Homo sapiens: one gene and its partners. The protein of the gene in region 2 purifies or fractionates together with the protein of the main gene of each other region. This does not show direct contact. Each region holds a gene or a part of one and is shown on either strand. Other genes may lie near its edges.

Region 1 (7,036 bases), on a different chromosome or scaffold from region 2:
GGGAAAGCACAGAAGAGTGAGAAGGAAGTGACTACATTTTATTTACTTCTATGCGTGTAAGTCCATAAGATCTTATATAAAGTTTCCACTTCGGTTGAGGAATATGTACTTTTTTGAATTACATAGGTTTTTGCTTTATATTGTTTTACAGCATGGCCTCACACCACTGTTACTTGGTGTACATGAGCAAAAACAGCAAGTCGTGAAATTTTTAATTAAGAAAAAAGCGAATTTAAATGCACTGGATAGATATGGAAGGTATAGTTCTTTCTTTTAATCTGTGTGTTGTAGATGGACAGCAGTCACTCAAGTCATAAATATTAAATTAATAAGATTAATGTATACTTACTGGGATGTAGTGATCAGTATCAACACAAATCAGTTAGGTAGAAAAACAATTACTTGGGCTGGGCAACATAAAGAACAGTTTTAGTAGGATTCATCTTCTCTTATTATATTGACTGATGTTATTTGTTATGTGACATTTTTGGTTACATGATCTTATGTTAGCTTAAAGGATTTCATATTAATTTTATGAAGTTTGAACTTTAACTTTTAGTTTACTTTATGACTCAGTATTGAACTTCTTAACCCTTTCTAATAGTTTTTAACCTGTGTCTTACATGCTTTTCCATTAAATATGCTGTATTAAACATAAATAGGGGTTGAAAATCCTTTTGTCTTTTTAATGACTTTGCTTTAAGTTGCTTTCTTTGAAGAATATTAGTGTTAGCTTATCCCTACATAACAATTAATTGCTGTTCCCACATACTGTGGGTTCAACAGCTTTTTTCCTTTTGTTTTTCCAGTGTATTTTGATGTTTTTATTTTTAATTGGTATGGAGAGAGGGAGTGAAGATAGTTTTAAGTGGATACACTTTTCCTTTAATGAAGACAAGCCGTACGTGGGTGATAAAGAGAAAAGAGCTAGGCTTTGGATTCACACAAGACTGGGTTTAATTAGTAACTTTCTTACTTGCTAGGTGTGTGACCTTGGGGACGTTATTTACCACCAAATATGTTGTCATATATGAAAAGTAGGAGAATATATCCTTCAAAGTTGGCTGTGCATAAGTAAGAAAGATATATGTGGCATTTAATTCAGTGCCTAGCACATGGTTATTGGCACCATTAACTGAAACTCCTATGACTACTATTCTTACCATTATTATTACTGCTTTGAGCATGCAGAGAGCTCTTATTTCTCTTACCCCCTAGCTGATTTTCTATTACAGCATGTCAGTCTAGGGAAGCTGTGACAAAATCTTCACTTAAATCTTTGTCCACCTCAGATAAGTGGCCCTAACATTGTTTCTTGCCCATCAAAGGACTTTAAATTAGTAGCTTCTGCTATGCAATACCCCACTGAGATAAGAGGGTTTTTTTTGGTCCCTTCCTTTTAACCTTGGTGGCATTTTACAAAGATGAACACTTGAGCACTCAGGTTGCTTATGTCTTTTAGTGCATGTAAATGTTTGATTCTGCACAGACAGGCAAGATGTTACATTGGTAAAGTATATCAAATTAGCTTTAAAAATAACTTTATTACAGTTCCTATCTCTGTCATTTTAGAACTGCTCTCATACTTGCTGTATGTTGTGGATCAGCAAGTATAGTCAGCCTTCTACTTGAGCAAAATATTGATGTATCTTCTCAAGATCTATCTGGACAGACGGCCAGAGAGTATGCTGTTTCTAGTCATCATCATGTGTAAGTGTTTACATTAAAAGGCTAGTTAATGCTGAATTGAGGTTTAAAATAATTATAACAGTTGCATCTCACATATCAGGTGAGATGTCATAGTTTGGTTCAGGTAGTTTTCGCGTGGCAGTGAGTTTTAGTCCCCTGCATCAGCCAGAAATCAGACAAAAAGCAAGACAAGTTAGAAGTACCAATGGGTGCGGGATTCTTTATCTCAGGACTTTTAAGATCTTTATCCTTAGAGATCCCAGCATTGTTCATTTGATCCAAGTGTAACACCTATGCAGGGATAAAAAATAGTGTCACATCTTTAATTTTTCTGATTAGTTATTTGGGTCTTGAAATGTCCAGTTTAGCGGAAAGTCTTGTACTGTCTTCTGGGGACTATGTCCTACATACTCCTTGAATTTTTCAAGAACCGAAGGAGTTCACTAAATCCAAGGAAGACAGTCCCTTTTATCAAGTCAGAAGGAGGAGGAAAAAAGACATTGCAATCATTCTGTTGTTTCCGTTGATTCTGTTGCTGCTTTGTGGCCACTCAAACTGGTCCTGCTGCCTTAAGATGAATCAGTAGATTCAGATCCCTCAAGTCTTCATGGCGATTCATACAGTGACTTTGATGTTTTTTAATTCCCATACCTATGCTTATATGCTCAGCCATTGTTCCCAGAGCACCAGCCCCCTGCTCTGGCCGCTGGGCATCCTGACTTTATCCGCACACAAAGTGACCAAATTGACCCTTCCCCGCATATTCAGAACCTAATGTGGAACCCACATCTTAGCCAGGAATTAGCTGAGACCTTCATGGTAAGAGATCCTTTGAGGCTGTTGTTGGTCTTTTCTCTGGCAGATGTTAGGTGGGCTTGTTCTAAAGGGTGAGAGGGGTTCAAATAATGTGGCAGAAGGAGGTCAGTGTCTGTTTCCTCTTTGCTACCAGATCTGTACTGTGAGGCACCTTTATATCCTGTATAGAACCTTGGGCAGTAGAAAGTCCCGTATGAACCTTGCCCTGAGCAGTGGCTCCCAGCTGTGGTTGGCCCCTTGAGTGATCTGATTTACATGATAATGAAAATTATCGGAGCTACTTCCATCTCTAGCTCAAGATTTTAAGATATTTTCAAACTCTAGCTCACAGGAAGCCATTGAAGAGAATTCTCAGAATCTCAAGTAGGTTAGTTGGACTTCACAGAGCCAAGCCTTGTCCATGACGCATCACTAATCATATGTAAAAGTAGGGCTTTGTGCTTGCTTCGGCGGCACATATCCTAAAATTGGAACAATACGGGGAAAGTTAGCGTGGCTTCTGCATAAGGAGGCAGGACAGATCTTTGAAGCATTCCATATTTTGTGCAGTCACTGGAAGGTCATTTGACTATTTTTGCTGACTAGCTCTGAGGAAATAGTGTGAATCAAAGCAAAATGGGTGCCACCCAAATATTGAAATTGTGATTTGTGCTGCAAAAATAGTCATGTAAGATGGTCTATGAGATGACTTTGAGCTGAATAACATGTTCCGTGCAAAATATATTGTTAGTATGTATGTCGAAAATTACAGAATGTCAGCTTGCTACTTCTCCGTGGAAACTAAAAAAAAAATAAAAGTAGACTTTTGGTCTCCCATGTCAGCTGGAATTGAACATCAATATAAAGCATTATCCTAACAGACATCTACTGGCTGAGAGTTTGAGTCGGTAGAGAAGGATCGTTGGTCCAAGTCAGGTCTTAACATCCATTGGTTTTTCTGCCCTTGGTGTGATTGATCAACTCCGTAATAGTGGACAATCACATTATCTACTTTAATGAGATATTTATGAATAAATTTAGTTATAAACTATGACATAGTTGAGATGCCCTGAATTATAAGCCATAAAGAGTAGGACAACTAAGAAGCAAAATTAGGACTTAATAACATTTTCTGAAAACTACAACATTTGCATATTAGAACCTATGAACAAAATACGCATTGGGTTTTATTTGGGATTCCAAGATAATTTTAGTCATAAAGTTTAGGAACAGATTATTCCATTGCTTTACTATTTCTCTGAGCATTTAAAAAATGTTATCTCGTTAAATCTTTATAACAACCTAGTGAAATAAGGCAGCAAAGTCCTCACTTTGTTGAAGAAGACATTGAGCCTAAGAGAAGCAAGTTGTCCAAGAACAAATAGCTGTTCATTATGGAGCTAGGACTTATGCAGAGTTGGGACACTTTCTATTATGTCATGCTAATGCTAGCTAATTTACTGGGTCACAGTGCCCTCGATTTATGACTATTTCACCTTACATTTTTTTCTTCTTTAATTAGAAGCTTAAAGAGAAGTTTGTAGAATGTACTCACAAGTGGGTGGGATAATACTATTAAGTTCTGTTATTCTGATATTGTTTGAAATACTCTTAATAATTCTACATTTGGTAAGTTTTTTTATATCAGTATTAAAATAGTAATTTGGTTTATTACATTTTTATACATAGAATTTGCCAGTTACTTTCTGACTACAAAGAAAAACAGATGCTAAAAATCTCTTCTGAAAACAGCAATCCAGGTAAGACTTGTGATAGTGAATTACTTTAGTCAGTTGTCCCCAATCTTTTTGACACCAGGGACCGGTTTTGTGGAAGACAATTTTTCCATGGGCTGGGGGAGGGTGGGGATGGTTTCAGGATTATTCAATCATGTTACATTTATTGTGCTACTTTATATTATTATCACATTGTAATATATAATGAAATAATTATACAACTTACCATAATGTAGAATCCGTGGAAGCTCTGAACTTATTTTTCTGCAACTGGATGGTCTCATCTGGGGGCAAAGTGAGACAGTGACAGATCATCAGGCATTAGATTCTCATACGAAGCACACAACCTAGATCCCTCAGATGGGCAGTTCACAACAGGGTTCATGCTCCAATGAGTATCTAATGCTATCACTGATCTGACTGGAGGCAGAGTAGAGGCTGTAATATGAGCCATAAGGAGTGGCTGTAAATACAGATGAAGCTTCCCTGGCTTGCCTGCTGCTCACCTCCTCCTGTGTGGTGTGGTTCATAATAGTCCATGGACTGGTATGAGTCTGTGGCCTGGGAGTTGAGGACCCCTGCTCTGCGTGGTCCTACCATAGATAAAAAAGTAAAAGTAAGGAATTTTTGATCACAAAAGAACACTGAAGCACAAGTCATGTTACATATGCTTGTCCCAATAAGTTCTCACTATTACTGACTTCATTCCTCCTCATTTGAAGTTGGAAAGAGATATATTTACTTTGTTGGAACAAGATGTGTTCTTCTACCTGCTGGTTAATTGTCATCATAACAGTAATTTTGTTAGAACAAGATGCTCTGCTACCATTTGCCAAAAGATTGTCATAATAAATATACAAATTGCCCAACTCTAGGCTCAGCAGATTATAATAAAAGCAGAAAAACGTTTCACGCTAACAAAAATGCTAGTATGCTACCTGGTTGTGGACACCTAATACATTATATTGTCCAAACTGTGTGAGGACACCTTTAATTTAGTCATCTATTTATCAAAGAGCTTTTGTAAGTTAGGTTTTATAAGTTGCAGGAGACAAAGATGGAATAGATGTAGTTTTGATCTTTAAGGTGCTCATAATAGAGCTGTCTCCATTTCATTTCTGTGCTTTTTCAACAGAATTTACAAAGAAAACATTTCTATTTATGTTTTCACTTGTCCACTTAACATATAACTATCAAATGTCTTTTAGATAGTAACCATTTTTCTAATGCTATAGACCACAAACAATTAAAAATACAGACAGGAGCTTTTTGTTATCATTGTCATTTTCATTATTTTACTACTTTATTCAGTGCTTACTGTGTGCTAGATGCCCACTGGAAGCTTATAATTATGATTTATTATATATTGATTATGTGCCAGACATATGTGATGAGGAATGAAAGTTTTGGGAAAAAGTAGGTATGATTTAAGGTAAGCATGCAGAGAGAGAAGAATTTTTCTAGGTAAAGAAGCAGAAGAAGAATGTTTGGCAGAAGGAACATGCAGCGAGGTCGTGTGTTTGCCAGAAGGAACATCTAATGAGATTGCCTGTTTGGGAGGAAGAGCAGCAAGTGCAAAAGACAAGATGCTTGAGTGAACATGGCAGGGTTTCTGAGCAGTTCACTTTTGCTAGTACCAAAAGTGTGTGATACGAGAGGTTGGGAATGAGGTGAATACTTAGCTAAGGCAAGTTTATGATAGACTTTTTAATACTATAGAAATGAGTAGGTCTTATCCTGTGTGCCATGGGAAATTTACTGGGTAGAATGCTTTGGACTGCAAATACTAGATGAACAGTGGCTAAAACAGTAGGAACCAGAGTTGTTTTGGTTGTTCATTGATATCCTAGGATCCCACTTTTCCCTCTTTCAGCTGTGCTGTTGACAGTGTTTTATTCACGTCTCCTTTCATGGTTGGCTAATCCGCAGCAGCTCCAAACATCTTGTTCTCACAACACAACATCGCAAGGGCTGCTTTTCTTCACATGTGTCTTTTAAACAGGGAGAAAACTTAGAAGCATGCAAAGGGCTTCCTGTAACATTTCACTGGCTGGGTCACACCACATGCTCATTCCCAAACCAGGCACTGGGAAGGTAAATACCTGATTAGCTTAGAATAAACATTTCTGTTTCTGAGGCTGAGGAGGGGGATTGGGATAATAAATATCCCAATAGACTTGGATTTCTTCTTCAAGAAAGAATAAGGAATGGCTATTGATAGGGAGCCAACAATGTGTGCTGCAGGGGCTCATTGGAGAAATTTGAGCAGGGGAGTCACAAGATTAAATTTGAGTATTAAGGCATTCTGGTTATGGTGTAAAACGGGTTAGCAAGCTTTTTCTGTAAATGGCCAGGTGGGCAATATTTTAGACTATGTGGTCTCTGTCATATCTACTTAACCCTGCTGTTGTCTGCTGTTGTAGTGTGAAAGCCACCATGATTATATGTAAGCAAACAGGCATGACTGAGCTCCTATAAAACTTTATTTACAAAGCCATAAGGCAGATTGGATTTGGCCTGTGGCCTATAGTTTGCTGGGATTGATGGAAGGTTCTTTACCATGTAAAGAAACCAGGAGACAAAGGAAGTTTTCGCAGTAGTCAGCTATAGTTTCCTTGTCATACATCCTTGGAGTAGCATCAATGTATTACAAGGTTTTCACCCGTCCTTAGTGAAATACATAAAGTTAGGAATCTCAACTACTTGTTTTAATATGTTGGCCTTTGTTTTTTTGGTGTTATGCTTTTTTCATTTGTTTTGCTTAATTTTTTTTATGTAAGAAATAACATTAATAGTTGGCAGGCTTTTTTTTAAAT
Region 2 (6,874 bases):
GCAGCCTCTCTCTGGACAATGCTGGAGAAACAGAGAAAATGTTTTGTGCTTTTGCTTCCGTAGTTCCAGGTTCCACCTTTTTTCTTCTTTCCACAATTCATTAGATTCTCACTTTCTTTTACTTTTAGTCAGGCTTTGGCTAGATTAGATCTTCATTTTAACTTCTTGTTCTCAATTTGTTAATAATGAACAATTGTGGCTTAAGAATTCTGCAGAGAACTAACATGATCTATTAGTGTAGATTTAGCTGGTTATTGAGGAGAGGGGGTTGGAGACATTTCTGATTGTCATGACTGAGAGGGTGCTACTGAAATGTAATGAGCACAAGTCAGAGATGCTTCTGAACATTCTGCAGTGCACAGGACAGCCTTCTAGAGCAAAAATGTATCCAGCCTCAAATGTCAGTTTTGCCGAGGTTGAGAAACCCTGGACTGCAATATGTTCAAGAGGCCAGTGAAGATTACATAATTACTTCTCTGTTGGATAGAGGTTAATCTTGATGCTCTGAAATTATCACTAACACCTATAATGATTTGGCTAACTCTAATGGTTGAGCTTCTGCTTGCGGGCTTTTAAACACCGCCACCTTAAAGTTTAAGGTTACTGCTCACTAAATACACTATTAACCAGTTATCCTTAACCATGTGTAAGTATGGACTCAGCTATCCTACACACTCTGTAGACCATTCCTTATTGTGCACACATGAAGGCTTGACTTCTTTCGGAGTTGTTGCCAAAATTTGTGATGTTGGCAGAACTGAGAGGAAGAAAATAACAAGAAGAAAAGTGGAAGTAAAAATCTTACATAGTGTGAAAATCCACCAGGCTTGTGATGCCTTAAAATTTTTATGAGTGAGATAAAGCACAAATGAATAGAGATTCTACTATGGATGTGAAATACGCCAGCTTTGTTGAAGTGTTTCCCTTCTTCCTTTCTTTCCATAATCAAGAGCTAGAGAGTAAAAGTCATAGAACTGCAAGACATGAACAACTGGGAATTATTATTGTAATAAAGAGAGGTGTTCAGGGTTAGGGTGGAGGAGAGTACAGCAAGTCTCTTGTGGGAAACCCCCCAACCCCACAGAATCAATAATTTTTTTTTTTTTGAGACGGAGTCTTGCTCTGTTGCCCAGGCAGAAGTGCAGTGGCACAATCTTGGCTCACTGCAGCCTCTGCCTCCTGGGTTCCAGCGATTCTCCTGCCTCAGCCTCCCGGGTAGCTGGGATTACAGGCACACGCCACCACGCCCGGCTAATGTTTGTATTTTCAGTAGAGACGGGATTTTGCCATGTTGGCCAGGCTGGTCGAGAACTCCTGACCTTAGGTGATCGGCCCGCCTCGGCCTCCCAAAGTGCTGGGATTACAGGCTTGAGCCACCACGCCCAGCCAAAACCAATAATTTTTTTTTTTTTAAATCTTACTCTTCTGACTTCTGGTGTTAATAGTCTCCTCTTTTCCTATTTAACCCAAAAGAAAAATTTGAGATTTTGATAGGAACTCTGGGCATGTGGACCTTTTAGGCCATACTGAATGCTGATTTTGACGGTAAGGAGGAAGCCATGGCAGGTTCTGAGTTTAGGGGGAAAAGCAGATGGTCCAAGCTGGAGAAATATATCTACAAGAAGAGTATGAATAAGAGAGAAATATTGCAAGTGGATGACAGAAGAAAAAAATCAGTATGAATTTGTCATTCATGGTCAAGTACCAGTTTATGAACTGGTTGTGTTCTTAAACGTTCATCTGACTGTTGGATGAATGGCCCAAGGAGGGCAGAAGGCTGCAGAAGTAATTCATTGGTTGCTGGATAGAAGCTTCAAAAATTCACAGTTTAATGCTCTTGTTTTAAAGAGAAAAAAAAAGCTAGCTCAGAAAAGTTGATCATCTTGCTCAAGACCTCCTTAAGAATTAGAAATAGAGGCTGATTACTGGGATTCCCCAGGCAGTCCACTAACGATTCTGTGTTGTCTCTAAGCAGGAAGGTGGTAAAAACAGTTACTTAATGGCAGTGTGTGGCAGAGGGGAAAGGGCAGGCTGTCCAGGTGACTGAGAAGCAGGCGGGAGAAGAGGAAGTGAAGGCAGTGAAGAAGGAACACTCTCCCAAAACAAGAGGCAGAAAGGGCACTCCGGGTCTGGGTCCCATTCTACCTAGAGAAAACATGCAAGCGCATATTGATTGAGGGCTTTCTACACGGGGGGTTTTGATACCATTTGTTGCCCAGAAGATATGGGGTACAAGTACAGAAATGGCGACAGATGGAGTCTACAAGCTCTTTCCAAACGTTCACATTCCTCAGAACCTCACCCGTTTTCTCGGCCACAAGAAATTATTAATTTATTTGACAAATATTTTAAAAATCACTATTTTGTGCTAGATTTTGTCCCAGGCCACATGGCTGTATTACTGAATAAGACAACTTTTTTTTTTTTTTTAATCTGAAAGTTGCTGGCTAGTGAGACAGATAAAAAGAAAGCAAATACATGTATTTCCGATCAATAATACGGAGTAATATGATAGTGACTGGAGGACCAACCTGGAATTGGGTGGTTAGGAAAAGCCTCTTAGGAGAGATGGCATTTGGGCTGATACCTCAGCGATAACAGGCAGGTATGCAGAGAGCTGGGGATCCAGGTGTCTGGATAGAGAGCACAGCCCAGCAAGCCTGACAGGCTCAAGGAACAGACAGGAGACCAGCATGTGTGTAACTCGCTTAGCAAGAAGATAAAATGAAGTCAGCAGGGGTGAGCCAGGGCACGTCAGATTGACGCATGTACTCATTCAGCAAATATTTATTAAGCACCTACTATGTTCAGGACATTGTTGAGGATACATAAATTAAGAAGAAAAACCACTGGCTCAAGGATTCTGTCGCTGGAGAGAAACTTCAGAGTTTAATAACGTTGATAGAACACCCAAAACAATTCTGCTACAGTTTAGAAATTGATCCATTCCAGACAGAACCACAATGCAGACATTAAGGGACACACATCATCTAAGGCCGTGAGGTCTGAGGTCAGAGATCCAGCCATCTGCTCCCCCAGGGTAGGGAGGTCGGGCCTCCCCGGGGTGAGTCACGTAGCCCACCTCTCCCCACCAGGCGAGGCTTCTCGGTCTTGGTGCATGGGGCAGGGCCGCAGGAAATCCCCCAGCCTAAATCTGCCGCACTCAGAAAACCCAGGCAGGGGAGCCCCCAGAGACCAGGCCTCTGATTAGCACCTGATTCACGGAGGCAGCCAAGGCTGGGTAGCGACTGCTGGTAACTGGCCCCCGGAGTCGCCCCAGGGGAAAAGGCCAAAGGGGGATCTGGAGACCCCCGGCCGGGGAGCGGGCTCCGAGACGAGCGCAGCCGCCCGGTCAGGGCAGCGCCTGCGCGTCCGCCAGGCCCCGCCGCGCAGCCTCGGGTGTCCCGGCGGGGCGGCTCGGGCCGCGCACGCGCTCTGGCCTCCGGGGCCGGCCGCCTGGGAGCCCGAGCCTAGTGCCTCCCACGCCCGGCGGCCGCGAGCCGGGGTCCGCGAGGGCGGAGTGGGGCGCGGCAGCCAGGAACCCGACTACGAATCCCAGGGTGCGGGCGGGCGGAGCGAGGAGGGACGCTGGGCCTGCCCGGTGCGCACGGGGGCGGGGACCGGCAAGGCGGGACCATTTCCCGGCATAGGCTCCGGTGCCCCTGCCCGGCTCCCGCCGGGAAGTTCTAGGCCGCCGCACAGAAAGCCCTGCCCTCCACGCCGGGTCTCTGGAGCGCCCTGGGTTGCCCGGCCGGTCCCTGCCGCTGACTTGTTGACACTGCGAGCACTCAGTCCCTCCCGCGCGCCTCCTCCCCGCCCGCCCCGCCGCTCCTCCTCCCTGTAACATGCCATAGTGCGCCTGCGACCACACGGCCGGGGCGCTAGCGTTCGCCTTCAGCCACCATGGGGAATGGGATGAACAAGGTAACGTCTTCCCTCGTTCGCGCTGGGTTTGCCTCCGCTCCGACGCCCTGCCGTCTCGCCGGCGTCGGCTGCCCGACGACTCGAGCCCGGGGTGCCCTTTCCCGCGGTGGGGACGGGCGCGGAGGGAGGGGCGGCGCGCCTGGGCGGCGACCGCGGAGTCGGGGTTCGGAGGTGTTCCCGCCCCCACCCCACCCGGCTTCCGGGTAGGCAGCCCCCAGCCGCCTGCCTTGCCAGCCGGTGCGTTTTCGTGGCTGAAACAAGCCGCGCCCTTTGAAAGCGTTGACACTTGTTCTGCCGAGAGGTCAGCTGAGCTCCGAATGGATGTGGCTTCTTTTTTGCCCTCCTCTTCGCTCCCAAACTACGCTCTTGAAGCCACCACCGCCCCCCCCACATCATTAGTAAACGGGTGTCCTCTGTAATTTCCTCTTTCTCCTCAGATTCTGTGTGTGTGCCTGTGAGCACAGAGAAGTTTTTCTTGTGGACAGAGAAGTTAACAGAGTCCTAAGTCCTGAGCTGTTTCTAGATAGTGGGGAGGAGAGAAAAGATTCAGAGTTGATTAGGTTATGTGACTTCTGCAACAAGGGCAACCTGTTGCTGGCTGCTTGCGCTGATGAGGCCTTCTGGAAAATCTGTGTTGCTCCATTTGTCCCGTCCGTTTCTGGGCCCCACCCTGTGTTCTTTTGTTGCCCGCACCTCACTTCCCGGGCGGTGGGCTAGCCTTTCCCGTCCAGGGAAGTTGCCAGATTCCAGCTCTGGCAGCTGAGAGTTGCCGGGGTGTATTCATGTGAACCACAGGGTTAAGGATTTTGTTACTTGGTACTTGGCTGGTTTCGAGGAAGGATTGACAAGACTTTACAAAGCCCGCAACAAAGACAAGTACCTTTTTACGGGTCTTTGAATGGTCCTGGATTAGATGAGTCGTCTTTCTGCTTCACTTTTTCATTGCGCTCCACCCACCCACATCTCTACATGCCGTCAGCTTCCACACTGGGTGGGGATGGCAATGTGGCTGTGTTTTTTTTCATGTCCCTCAGCACTGGGTCAGCAGTGGTTTGGGTGTTGGGGCTGGAGTGTTGCAAATGCGGATTCACGGTAGGGCAGGGAAAACCTAGCTAACTTTTCACGTGCGCATGTCGTGTTTATTGTGTCCTGGTTACCCAGTTTGTGAAAGAACTATTGTGTGTTTGGGACCTGCATATCAATACTGGGGTATTTTGGTAAAGAGAATTGTATTCACTTTTTTTTTTTTTTTTTTTTTGGCGAGTGATCAAGTTTGGAAACAGACTGTCTCTCTCTTGGATAAATACTTGTATTATATTCCGATGAGCACTGGAATCCATCAGCACCACGAGCCTTCTGCTTTTTAAATTAAAACAGAACAATAAAGATGGTCATCATAAGTCTGTGGGCTCCGTTTGCCTTCCCATTGGTGGTGGTATCTCAGCTTTCCTTTGGCTGTTTCTAGTTTTCCCACTTGAGCTGTTCACTCTCCACCGTTTTCAGCATTTAATTTATAGTATTTGTGTAATACAATTCAAAAAATATATTTAGGAATACAGATGGTTGCCTAAGGGATCAACGTTATTTTCATGCTTTTCAACAAAAGCAGTAATATTCATATACTTTTTACCTTTCAAAATGGGTAATAAATTTCTTGACTTTTATTATCTTGTGAATAGAGACTCACAGTGTATCAATGAAGAAATACATGTATAGAGAGATTTAGAGACTTCCCTGCTTCAACACTTATTGATTATGTACATACTATGAGCCAGGTGTTGTGCTAGTGGGTGGGGAGGGGGCAAAGGGAGTACAGTGGTAAATGACCCAAAGATTCTTCACAGAACCTTCAGTACAGGTCAGCATTGTCCAGCACTAATATGATGCGAGCTATATATGTAACTTAAAATGTTCCGGTAGCCACATTAAAAAATAAACCGGTGAAATTAATTTTAATAATATATTTTATTTAACAATATATTAAAACTATTGTTTCAACATGTAACCAATATATAAAGTTATTCATGGAAGATTCCATGTTTTTTACTATGTCTTTGTGAAAGGAAAAATCTCGGGACCCCCAGATCACTTAACCTTCAAAGTCTAGTGTGTATTTTATGCCTAAATCACATCTCATTTTGGACTAGCCACATTTGGAGTACTCGATAGTCACTGTGGCTAATGGCTGCTGTGTTGCACAACACAGGGTGTGTATGTGTGTGGGGGTGAGAGAGAGAACAAACACAAGGTAGGGAGGAGTAGAGGCTCCAGAGGATAAAATAGGCAATTTCAGAAAAGTGGGGAAAGCAGAAGATGGGATGAAAGTGACCTAGAAGGGGCATTCAGCCCAGGCAAGGAATCCTGCTGCAGTAAACATGTTTAACGTGAGATCAGGAGGAACTACCCCAAATCACAAGGTTCATTAGTGGCAAAGTAGATCGCAGGAGGCCAGTAACTTAAGAACCTTAACTAGAACTTTTCCATATATTACTGTGTGACTTGGAACGAGGCTTCATCTGTAAAAAAAGAAGAATGGTTGATTTGCAGAATCAGCGGAAGGTGCTACCCCTAGAAATCCTTTTCTAAGAACATTTATAAATATGTGCAATGTCTTTGGAACTAACATAACTTGGAATGTGTGTGCCCTGAGGTTACTGGGACAAGATTTCTTTCCAATCTCGTACACATTGGTCATTTTTGGCAAAAGAGCATTTCTGGTCTAAACAGTGCACGCTGCATTCTGAGTGCTTTGGGACAGCAGTTTTTATCATTCACATCCCTGTGGTGGCTCTTCTTGTCGGTCCGTTCCGGGCTCCTGTACGGCGGAATATTGTGCCCGTTTCCGTTAGGTGTACGCAGCAGATTATACAGAAGATGGAGGGGAAAAAGGCTTTTATATTCTAGAAAATTAAAGATGAGGAAATAAAGACAGGACTGGGCGTGGTGGCTC
Region 3 (4,368 bases), on a different chromosome or scaffold from region 2:
TCACCCTGAAGGGACTGCCTTGGTAAGGCAACTCAGGGGAGGCCTGGGGAGCCAGAACCGTGTGAGGGTGCCCGAGGCAGCAAGGGAAAGACTCAGAGCACGATGGCCACATTCAGAGATCACATGCCCTGCCCCCAAAGCCCCAGCTGTGGACAAGAATGACTCAGGTCCCTTGGACAGGCTGTCACCAGTGATGACTTAGGACCAGCCTGCCCGGCTCCAGCAAAGCACAGGAAGCTCGAAGGTTTAGAAATGGGTCATTGTTGTGCTGAGGCCATGCGTCAAAGAGGACATCCCACAGCCAGCTCCTATCCTGGCCAGCACTCTTGACAAAGGCAGAGGGAGTGCAGCTTAGTGAGCTGGTCCCTTTACACAGGTTATTCACTCCAGAATCTGGAGAATTCTGTCCTTAAGGAAAAAAAAAAAAAAAACTAAGCTCAAGATCCCACAGCTTGTAAGACCAGGCCTAAGAGTCAAACCTGAATCTCCCCACATGAGAGCACCATGCTCCCCCTCACCCAGCACCCCCTCTGTAGGTGGTGGCCCAGAGGAGATGTTGCCCTGGGCTGCTCTTCCATAGGAGGAAAGACATGATTCACTAATAACTGCATGTCCTGAGAATTCCCTGTTGGGGACCCCAGGACTTCACTAGGGGCATGGCTCTTGGGTGACAGTTGGGAGGTCTCTTCCAGGGTCTCAGTCCAGCCAAGCATGTGGCCTTGCAAGAAGGCAGCTTCTAATGGCTCAGAAACACCAGGGCAGGGGGGCCACAGTCCTTCACACCACACACTTAGTTCCCCAGCTTCAGAACGCTTTAAAACGCTGCAGCATGGAGCCTCACGCTTTCAAAACAGTATTTCATAATATGCCAGGACTTTGTGTTTTATTCGTCCTCTCCCTGTGACCTAGGCTAATGCAGACAATAAAAATGCCACCAAGTTCTGCAAAACTGAAAAAATGAAGTGGGTGATTAGGGGACATTTGATAATGTGCTTTGGTTGAAACTTGAGAAATTATTCCTAGTAACTTTTCCTAAGACTGTGACTATATTTTCCAAGTGAAAAATAAGAGCTAGTGAAAGTAATGTGTGTGTAGATTTCGGAGCAATGGGATTGAGGATTTGGAAGCATGACTTCAGAAACTGAGCCACGTGGTCACCTTCCCTCATTGAATCAATATTCGGTGAATACCCACCTGTGTCTGGAACTGTACTGACCCATGTTAAGCGAGAAAGAGTGATTAATGTGACAAGATGTGGCTCCAATTTCTAAGTCCTCACACTAGAGCGCCCCCTTCTGGAGCCAGTCAGCAGAGAGAGAAGTTTGACTGTGTCCCCCTTGAAACCGTCAACTGTTTGGTCCACTTGAGACCTAGGTAAAATCTGAGGGGACAGCTCACTCTAACCTGGATCTGAACTTAAACTTGAGCCCCGATGACAGAATAATCCCTTTCTGCCTGGAAATGGCCCAAGCCATCTCATGCTGAGGCTTTTTGACATAATCTCTACCACAGCTGTGTATGGGAGCAGTGCTCAGAAAATGCAAGGCGGTCCTCACTCCACGTACGGGCACTCACATGCAGTCTCAGTGTCGGTCTCTTTCTGCAGGTCTAGGCATTAATCCTATTCAGCTGGTTGCATTTTACCCTTATGGGAAGCAGAGTGCTGACTTCCTCCTTTCTCCACCTCTATTCCTTTCCCCTAAACAAATGCAGCCATGCCCTTTACAGGCAGGAGGTTTGGTATTGGGCCGCCTGCCACTCTGAGGATGTTCCTCATTGTTTATCTTGGCTTTTCTCCTTCTCAGATCAACAATAAAGCTTGTGGCAAAATTCCTGTGCCCCAACAAGTTGCCCGGGACCAGGACAAAGTCCACGAATTTGTTCTTCAAAGCGAGCTGGGTGTCAGGCTTTTGCAAGGACGAAGCATCAAGAAGTCCTTCCTTTCCCCGAGAACTGCCCTCATCAACTTCCTGGTGCAAGATTGACAGCCAGGAGGCTGCAGCTACCACGAGGGCCTCTGAGGAACCTCCTTCCAGGCCTGGGATGAGGGGGCGATGTCTGCTGGCCCAGGGGAAGGGAAAAGACAAATGTCTTGACTGTTGACCTCGGTCCTGTGGCAGACTGCAGTCAACAGTGTGCCTCTGTAGTGTGGCCTGGTGCTGGGGTGAAGGTGAGCTGGGCAAAGGAGAAATATGAGCTACTGAGGAGGGGGTTGGACATCCTGCCCCTCACCCCCCACCCACACTGCAGGTAGAGGAGGCCATCTGATCCCATGGGAAGCCATCAGAGACACTGCTGGTGGGAGCAGGAAGGAGCAGTGCCCCTCGAGCAGCCAGGAAGCCTGCGGATCTGGGAAATGGCTCTGCCTTAGGCACTTCTCGGGAATTTGAGGCCAGCCTGAGGAACTGCAGGACTCAGGTGCAATGTGCCAGCCACTTGGAACTGCTAACTGAGCCTCCAGATGGTAGTGAATGGTCTCTTTGCCTTCAGGCTGGATGAGGAAGTCATTTAGGAAATGTTCAAATAACCAATATGTGGAAATGGACACAGGGATCTTCTGAAGTTGCTTTGAATCAAAAGGCAGGCAGTGCTGGTTCCTCTGCCTGTGTCCCCACCACTCCCCAGCTCTGTCATGCAGGCCTGTCCTCCCCAACCCCAGCTGGATGTGCCTCCCAGGCCTGCTGTGGTTCTGACACACAGGATCCCAGGCAAGGCACCACTTCCTCACATGAATGAGGAGCAGCAAGTCATAACCACTCCCTTGGGTATACAATTTGCTGTGTAGTGAAGTGGAACCAGGCTCAGGCTGCTGGTCCCAACCTCAGAGCCCCACCGCAGCCCAGTAGGGATGCAGCACGCCCCAGAGGGCTCATGTGGGCCCCAGATGGCAATGCCACCATTGTTGATGTGACTCCAGAGCCAGTTATTAGGAAGAGCAAGCTCACCACAGAGGAGTGGAACTGAGGCCCCCCAGATGTTGCCTCCGGTGTCCAAGCCACAGCGGTCTGGCTGTTGGGAAGATGGCCAGGAATGGACTCATACCATTGGCACATTAGGCTAATCCTGGTTTTATGTGAAGTCAGCAATTAAGTGTTCCCACTAGAACTGACCTAAGCCACTGATTAATATTTAATGAGGGAAGGTAGGGGAGAATCTAGCCATTTTATAATGCCAGAAATCTATATATGTTATCTGATGCCATTTTTCTGAAGTAGCCTCACATGTGGTCCCCCTGCAGTTCAGCAGTTAACAGATGACTTTTTTAGTGTAATAAAATGTTTATCATCTATGACTTCAGGACATATGTGTGATCCTGGAATACACCATATTCCAATTTCAGAGTTAATTACAAACAGATTGAGGTATTCCATCATCATCGGAAGCATTGGCTGTGTGTCTGACTCCACATGGAATGCTATAAAGTGGGATACATGTGGTTCTTCTTGTTCCAGAACTTACAGTCCATGGTAGACAACACTGATACAGGCAAACTAGCAACAGCAATTAAGTCACTGGTTCTCAGACTTAATACTCTGCCTGGTCCTCATGCCCAGATATTCCAATTTAATTGGTCCATGGTGTGGCTTGAACACCAGGAATCTTTAAAACTCCACAAGTGATTCTAATGGGCAGCAAAGTTTGAGAATCACTGGACACATTGATGCACTTGAGCCATCATTTCTATCTAGTTCTTCCTCTTCCTAATCTTCAGGTTAGCGGGGATAAGTTTGGTCCAGGACCAAGAGTTGGACCAAAAGGGAAGACAGGGGCCAGAAGTCTAGAGTGCTAGAGCCGACTTGAATGTACTCAGTCTCATTGCACATGGCAGTGAATATGGATTAAATATAAGCCCATGAAAATATTTGGTACAAGGAAGGAGTGAGTGATTTTGATTATCTTGTTATTTCCTAGTAAGCTAAGTGGTCTTGAACAAGATGAGGGAAGGGAGCCCTTTATTTGCATGTGATCTGACCAGAGCAATGGGCCAGTAAAGCCTCAAGGCTGCTAGACTGACCAGCTGGCTGACACCAGCATGGCTCTGAAGAAATTGCTCCAAGAGGATAAAGCTTTTGCAAACAAGAGCTCATCAGTACATACTAAGAGACAGTATGGGTAATGGAACAACTGGACAGAAAACTCTGACCCCTGGGAGTGAGGTGGTGGGGAATAATCTCAGCCATTTATTGACTGTCTTGTTGAGGTCAGAAACTGGACTCAGCAGGTTCACAATAATTATCTTATTTAATTCCCACAAAAACTCTAGAGGGAAGGAATTATTCTCTCATAAAAGAAGAAACCCAGGCTCTGAGGTTCAATAATTGTCTCAGTTTTCACAGCTAATAAGTAGGAGAACTGGGATCCAAGCCC

Evidence for each region.
Region 1: the proteins of DUSP22 (region 2) and POTEF purify together in Homo sapiens (affinity purification with mass spectrometry; 2 studies listed by BioGRID and IntAct, with this or other methods). This does not show direct contact.
Region 3: the proteins of DUSP22 (region 2) and LARS2 purify together in Homo sapiens (affinity purification with mass spectrometry; 2 studies listed by BioGRID and IntAct, with this or other methods). This does not show direct contact.

Annotation. Positions count from the first base shown.
Region 1 is NC_000002.12:130,105,217-130,112,252, reverse strand, and holds part of POTEF (POTE ankyrin domain family member F), read left to right. Parts: intron 1-151; coding exon 152-258; intron 259-1,572; coding exon 1,573-1,710; intron 1,711-1,895; exon of another isoform or gene 1,896-2,966; intron 2,967-4,168; exon of another isoform or gene 4,169-4,173; coding exon 4,174-4,244; intron 4,245-4,446; exon of another isoform or gene 4,447-4,666; intron 4,667-7,036.
Region 2 is NC_000006.12:288,637-295,510, forward strand, and holds the start of DUSP22 (dual specificity protein phosphatase 22), read left to right. Parts: upstream 1-3,850; 5' UTR 3,851-3,903; coding exon 3,904-3,924; intron 3,925-6,874. UniProt on the Homo sapiens protein: Dual specificity phosphatase; can dephosphorylate both phosphotyrosine and phosphoserine or phosphothreonine residues. Activates the JNK signaling pathway.
Region 3 is NC_000003.12:45,545,546-45,549,913, forward strand, and holds the end of LARS2 (leucine--tRNA ligase, mitochondrial), read left to right. Parts: intron 1-1,805; coding exon 1,806-1,985; 3' UTR 1,986-3,862; downstream 3,863-4,368.